2 linked regions of the Homo sapiens genome follow. The protein of the gene in region 2 purifies or fractionates together with the protein of the main gene of each other region. This does not show direct contact. Each region holds a gene or a part of one and is shown on either strand. Other genes may lie near its edges.

The links.
Region 1: the proteins of TRPC7 (region 2) and MX1 purify together in Homo sapiens (pull-down; one study listed by IntAct). This does not show direct contact.

The regions. Positions count from the first base shown.
Region 1 is NC_000021.9:41,436,232-41,440,051, reverse strand, and holds part of MX1 (interferon-induced GTP-binding protein Mx1), read right to left. Parts: intron 3,038-3,820; coding exon 2,900-3,037; intron 359-2,899; coding exon 204-358; intron 1-203.
Region 2 is NC_000005.10:136,222,283-136,226,102, forward strand, and holds part of TRPC7 (short transient receptor potential channel 7), read right to left. Parts: coding exon 3,752-3,820; intron 3,073-3,751; coding exon 2,992-3,072; intron 1-2,991. UniProt on the Homo sapiens protein: Forms a receptor-activated non-selective calcium permeant cation channel. Probably is operated by a phosphatidylinositol second messenger system activated by receptor tyrosine kinases or G-protein coupled receptors. Activated by diacylglycerol (DAG).

The sequences.
Region 1 (3,820 bases), on a different chromosome or scaffold from region 2:
CCAAAGAAGCTTCCATTCAACTTGACAGAACAGACTGTGACCAACGGGCTCTCTAAATTCCCCACTCACACCTCCAAATACTAACTCCAAAACTCAGCTCTGGACTCACGGTTACTCTAATACAGTACCCTCTTTCTCCTCCCACCCCTCCACTCCCCCATCCCCACGCCACGGCCAAGGTCAGAATGGGTCTGAAGTCTGACCTTATACCCAATGTCAGCAGGCTGATTGCCCACAGCCACTCTGGTTATGCCAGGAAGGTCTATTAGAGTCAGATCCGGGACATCTCGGGAGCTGATCTCCAGGGTGATTAGCTCATGACTGATTCCCATTCCTTCCCCGGCGATGGCATTCTGGGCTAGAAAAGAGACAGGGAAAATCAAACCCAAACAGAGCTTAGGATAAACGGATCTCATGATGGTGAATACTCTGAAAGCATCTTCTCCTCTCTGCGAGTCATGGATAAAAGCATATTTGGAGCAGATTCAATTTTCTGTGATTGGGATAAAAGAGATCTCAAAGGATAACTCAGTATTTTCCCTGCTGTTGGCCAGCACTGTGTGTAGAGAGACCTTGTGAGAACGTCACCATGAGTGACACCCACTTAGACCAGTCCAAAGCTGGGCGGAGGCAAGAAGTTCTTCCTGGTAGCATTCCTAAATCCTTCTCATTGATGTCAGTAGGAAATTAGCAACCAAGCAAAATAAAAACAAATAAAAATATATGGAAATGCCTAAAATATAAACTGGAAAATTATATGGGGAAATGTGCTTATTTTAGCTAAGATAAGCACTGGCTGTTAACATCCCATTAAGAGATTTTATTTTGCTCCTTCCTCCTTAATGAATTTTAGGATATGAATTTGTTTCATCAAATTGTTGGCTAACACCACTTTACTCTTTTCTAAATCTAGAATGCCTTTTTGGGATGTTTGATATCAATTTAGAACTTAGGAAATATCAGTGGTTATGGTCCACTAATTGTTCCCCCAATATCCATGTACCTGCCATGTGGTCATGAGATCGGGTTCTGGCCAATGGGCCATGTGAAAATGTTATGTGCAACTTCCAGAAAGTGTGCTTACAAAGGCAGAGATATGCCCCTTGCCATGGTCCAGCTGGCTTCAAAGCGGACTTGCTGACTAAGTCACGGGGGGGCCTTGGAAACAGAGGCCACACCCAATGAAGAAATGGGAGAAGAATAAATCTTGGTTCCTGACATTGGAATCCCCAATCAGCTCTGGTCTGCCCGCCTTCAGACTTATATGAGAGGGACAGAAAGCCTCTACATTGTTTAGACCGCTGTCTCAGCAACTTGCTGGCACAATGGCATCCACATTCCCTTCCATCCCTGTATGCACGCTACTTTACAGGGTGCCTTCGTCACTTCCATGGAGAGAGAGAAAATCGGTCCCTTGAAATTGGGCTTGGCCACGTGACTTTCTCTGGCTAAGGGGATGTTACACAGTGCCACGTCAGGAGAGACCGAAAGGTGTTAGATGTCGGGTCTTGCCCTCTCTTGCTGCTGGGAACCCCTCCACCCACATTGATAAGTCCAGCTTAGCCTTCTGGAGGGTGAGAGACCACACAGACAGAAGGCCCGGTCACTCCAGCCAAGGGCCATCCTGGACCATCAGCCCCAGCCCAGCTAGCCCAGAGAAGAACTGCCCAGCTGGTCCATCAAATCATGAGAAATAAAAGTGGTCAAGCCATTAGTTTTAAGATGGGTTTGTTATACAGCAAGGGCTAAGGCACACAGTTATTTTGAGTTTTCTGCTGCAAGCAGCCAACCTAATCCCAACTAATTCAAAATCACGGTTTGTCAATAACATTATTTATCTTTCTTTAAACAGTCAACAAATGTGATTAATGCTCCATCTTTACAAATGCTAAACCCGTCCCTTCCTACTGCTGGGCATTAGTTCATGTCTCTTCAGTACCTTCCCAGTGTGAATGAAACTTAAACATGTGACATGCCAGAAAAACATGAAGGTCGATAGGAAGATGTTATCCATGCATCTCACAGAGGCTGTTCTTTGTCAGCTACTCTACCCTGTCTACACTGCTGGTGTCATTTCCCCTTGCAGACACTTCAAATTGATCCTTGTGGTTTGCATTTATGGAGGCCTGCCATGAATTAGCCTAAGCTGGGATTATGCAAACACAGTCACTCCTCTTTCTTAGAAAAGGGTGCTGGTTCTGAGTGGGGTTCAGTGACGATCCTGTCCACAATGTGGAGTTCCTTGTACAAAGGAACAGGGGGAGGAGCTCCCTCACCCCCATATCTGGCTCCTCTTCCTGCCAGATCTAAGTAGGGAAGCCCTTGAATAAGGGACAGATCATCCATATGTGGGGACATTTTAAAATTCACATTATTCTAGATACTTACATAATAAGCAATACATGTGTTTTTGAGACAGGGTCTCACTCTGTTGTCAGGCTAGAGTGCCGTAGCAAGATCACGGCTCACTGCAGCCTTGACTTCCCAGGCTCAAGCAACTCTCCCACCTCAGCCTCCTGAATAGCTGGGACCACAGGTGCATGCCACCCTGCCCAGCTATTTTAATTTTTTTTTTTTAAGAGACGGGGTCTCACTATGTTGCCCTGGCTGGTCTTGAACTCCTAGGCTCAAGCAATCCCCCCGTGTCAGCCTCCCAAAGAGCTGGGATTACAGGCACAAGCCACTGTGCCTGGCCAGAAATAAATGATTGCTATCAGATGCTGATATCCAAGCGTGCTGGTCATAATGAGGTAAAAGAAGTAGAAGGAACCGTGGCCTGATGTGCAGGAGAAAGGTGTCCTGACAGCACAGGCCCAGGGAGGTGGGAGTATGAACAGTTACAAACAGACCCCATGCATGTCAGAAGGCTTGACCAGGCATCCAAACAGGGGGTACTCACCTTTATTAATTTCCTTTTCTACCTCTGAAGCATCCGAAATCTCAATCTCGTAGTCCTGGTAACTGACCTTGCCTCTCCACTTATCTTCGTTCACAAGTTTCTTCAGTTTCAGCACCAGCGGGCATCTGGTCACGATCCCTAGGAGGCCACGCCCACATCAGTGCTCCACTTTGCTCTTAAAAGACCTACATAGCGCCTTAGGCCCATGGTTCTCAAACTTTTATACAATCATATGGGGAGACATTTAAAACTGGAAACTTTCTGGTCTTACCCTCTGATATGCGGGGACATCGCACTGTGTCTGGGTGACCTCAAGAACATGCATTCTGAGTATGTAACCCAGGTGAGTTTTTGCTTACTAACGCTTGAAAGCCACCACTTTTGGCTTCCTGCCTCATCCCAGTGTTCTGCCATCAGCTCAGGTGGCAGACCACATTGGGAATCCCCCGAAACTCATCCGAACATCTTCCATTATCCCCCCAGCATACACACTCTACCCCCATTAGGAAAGCATCCTGCTGCTACCAGGCCACCTTACAACAGTCCTCCTACTGTAAACTCCTTCCATATTCTTCCTACCACACCTGATCTGTATTGCAAGACCCGTCCCAGGCCTGAACTCTTTGAGACCTCACTGATATAGTTCTGAACTGGGGGACCCAAATGTGTTTATTCAGATTCTCCTCAAACTGTAGATTACATATGACTTATGTGAAAAAAATGTGCAATGAGATAGCGTTATGAAATGGTGTTCCCTCCAAATTCCTATGTTGAAGCCCTAACCCCTAATGGGACTGTATTTGAAGATAAGGCCTTTAAAGAGGCAATTAAGGTTAAATGAGGTCATTAGGGTAGGCCCCAATCCAATATGACTGGTGCCCTTATGAAGAAGGGGAAGAGACAGCAGAGATGCTTGTGTGT
Region 2 (3,820 bases):
CGAATGAAGAGACAAAAAAGCAGCAAACTTAGTAACTAAATGTGTGTGAACGATGGTGCTTTTATCTTCTTGGGAACACTAAGTGATTTCTCAGAGCCACAACATGTGAGAAGCTGATGGAATATGTGCTCAGTGACAGCAGCTCTGCCTAGGGCCTGGATTGTAAGAAGGAGGGGGTGAATTGGGCTGCTCATGTTCTCTGCACATTTGGAAGCTGCTGTGGGAGGAAAGCAATGCTACTTGGAAGGCCACTGGTAGGCCCAAGGAAAGAGAGGAACCATACTCAGATCCCCCCTCAAATTGTCCTTGCTGCTGTTGACAGCAAAAGTGCCCCAGTGCCTTCTGCTCCTTGCCTCCTCACTGTGTGCTTGGAAGGCTCAAATAGGTCTCTTCCTGGTGACTGTCAAACACAGGCAAGAAAGGTTCTGAGGAGGGTGCTGGTGCAAAACTACGAAGATAAATAATAGGCAGGTGTCCAGGCAGCATGACGTGGTGAGAGAGGGGGGGCCCTCTGAGTCAGAGAGATCTCAATTCAGTCACTTGTGTGGCCTTGGCCACTGAGCCTCAATTCCCTCATCTGTTACATGGGGTTGAAGACAGTGCCCATCTCCAAGGAATATGGGAGAGTACACGTGAGCTAGTGTCCAGCCTGCATCCAGGTATCTTTTAGTGACATCTCAGGGTTTACTCCAATTGTGAGCAGATGATGACTCAGGACGATGCCACACAGCCTAGCAGGGTGGAGCCAAGAGCCAATGTGCAAAGACTGCTTTCTCTCAGCCCCTTTCCTCTGATGCCTACTGGCTGGCTTTTTGTTTCTTTTCTGTGACAACTATTTGAATAAGTCACCTCAGGCTTCTTCTGTGGAGTCACAAATTACAAAATGAGCAAAGCTTTCCAAGGTCATCAGTTGCCTGAAGCTGTAGATGACCAATCTCTGTAATCACAGCAGGAAGTTCCTGGGGAGATTCAAGGCAGTATGGACTCAACCAGCGAGGACGGAAGACAGAGATGGGACTGCTTTGAGACTGCTTTTGAAAATGGTCTCCTGCTAGGCGTGGTGGCTCATGCCTGTAATCCCAGCACTTTGGGAGGCCGAGGCAGGTGGATCACCTGAGGTCGGGAGTTTGAGACCAGCCTGACCAACATGGTGAAACCCCATCTCTACTAAAAATACAAAATTAGCCAGGCATGGTGGCGCATGCCTGTAATCCCAGCTACTCGGGAGGCTGAGACAAGAGAATCACTTGAACCTGGGAGGCGGAGGTTGCAGCGAGCCGAGATCGCACGATTGCACACCAGCCTGGGCAACAAGAGTGAAATCTGTCTAAAATCAATAAATAAATAAAGTAAAAAAAAAAAGTAAAAAAAGAAAAGAAAATGGTCTCTTTCAGAAAGGATTCATTCTGGAATGGGACATTCACACAGAATTGATCTTCCTTTATCTCAGGAGCTAATTCTGCTCAAAACCTAGGAGAGATTTGGCCCTAACCCATTGGGTATCTATCTTTTCTGTGACACAGATAATCTATACTTCTCTCTGAAAAGCTGAGAAATAAAAATACTTTCACTGACCAAAGGCTTTGGTCTGTAAAATAGCTCAAAGCAGATCAAACCAGTCAGTGCCAATTTTGTGCGCGATTAAACACAAGATTTGCCCATTGCTAATTTTTCGCCTGTCATCTGATAGAACTATAAGCTCTTTGAGGGATGAGCCATTTCTTAATTGTGCAATTAAATTCTCCTAACTGCACAGCTGGCTTCTGAAATATGGTTGGAGAGATTCAGTTAGAGACCTGTATCTAAAAGATCTAAGTCTGTAATTCTCCCTGTGGGAAGGTGGCACCAGGGGCACATCACCTCCACCCAAAGGAATGCTCAGGACAGCTTAAAATTTACATCTGATAAGAAATGATCAGCATAGGTGAAACTGCTGATCATCGAGAAGTGGAAGACAGGAAAGGAGTGGCCTGCCCTTTTATAATTGATCATCTGTAGCTATCGTTTATCACTGGCGCATGGGCTGATCCAAACGGATACAGAGATCTGGCATTCATTTCCAAAAGCAATGCAAGGATTGGAAGCATAAAAGTTCTTTTTCTAATTTTTCTGACAACAGACTTGGCAGGCTGGCAGTCCAAGTCTGAAGACACCTATATCTACTTGACTGCTTAAGACAGAAACCTGTGAGCCATGCTGGGTGTGCCTCGCCCTCCCCATATGTGCCCAGCAGCTATATATCCAGAAAGTGTATAGCATCTGTCTGCTTTTCTCTATCACCCTGCTCGTACCCCAATCCAAGCAACCATGCCTTGTACCTGAATGACTGTCACATCCTCCTCACTGGTATCCCTGCTTTTACTCTTGTCCCCACCTGTCTCTTCTCATTATAGCAGTTAGGTGGTTTTCTTAAAGCGCGAATACAATTTCATCATCTCCCCTCCTGGGCAAAGTTACCCTCTCCCCCATCCTGACAGTGGTCTGGCCCTCTGACCTCACTCCCTCCACCCTCTGCTTCCACAGGGCCCAGCTGCCCTGGACCTGCCACCCTTCTCTTCCTCTGCCTGGAAGGCCATATATGGCTGCCTCCTGCATCCGAGTGGTCTCGGCTGACTGTTCTCTCCTTGAAGATGTCCTCTCTGAAAACTATATCTAGGCTGAAGCTCCCTATTTTTCTCTGTTTTTGAGTCCTCCTGTTTGCTTTTTGTCACTATTACCAGTTTGAGGGCATACACTTATCTGTGTGTTGACTTGTTTATTGTCCATCATCACTAGACTGGAGGTGCCACTGAGGGAGGAACCACATCTGTATCTGTATCCCCAGGAAGTAGCACAGTGCCTGACATATAGTAAGTACTCAATAAATATTTGTACAATAAAGGAAGGAATGAAGCTGTGTTCTCGGGGGATGACACAGTCATGGGACTAAATCTGTGTCTTAGTGGAGTCTACTTCTGCCCATGCTTGGATGCTTGGGAAAGGGGTGGTTACCTGGTATCTGGTGGGCTTGCTCAAAGTGTTATTTGCTGTCAGATTTTCAGAATTCCTCATGCCAGCCTGGTAGCGAGTCTTCTGGATAAAACAAACAAACCCACACACATCACACAGAAAAACATACATGCATCCCTACATATCTCGTAGGACTTGAACAGTATCCATATACGGGGCTGTCTCAGTGAAGCAGCTTTTGAAAGCTGATTTACCTGGTGCTGCTTGGCTTCCTAGAACATTGTTCCTAGGACCTTTAGCTCTGTAGGATGTTAATAAGGGTTACAGAATATTTAGTCAACTTGGTTGGAAAGCACTGAATTAAGGTTACATGGATGTCTTTTCTCCAGGGGTTTTAACATACTAATAAACACTGAGAATCCCCAGGAAAGCCAGACAGTGGGAAGGAAACCTTTTTCTCAGAGATCATTTTCCAGATACTTTCTGAGAAAAGCTGTTCCATTTCCAAGTCCACTAAGGGGTTCCCTTCACTGGGGTCATGGCTTAGCCAGGCAGCTTACTATGTCCCCAGCAGGGCACCTCTCCAAGGGGTTGCAAGGAGAAAGGAGGGTATCACAGTAGCCTCTGCTGGCATTGGAGCTTTCAGATGTGTCCAGGTAGACTCTACAGAGTACCGGCCCTCCCAGCTCCTGGCTCCCCTTGCATGGGGTGGGGGAGGGCAGCCATATGACTCAAACACACTCTAGACTCGCCTGCCCCCTCCTGCTGCCTTCTCCAGCCTCATAAACCACATGCTACCTACCTTGAATTTGGAATTCAGCATGCCCATTTCAAGGTCATTTTCACAGCTTTTGGCCTTAGATTTGCAGAG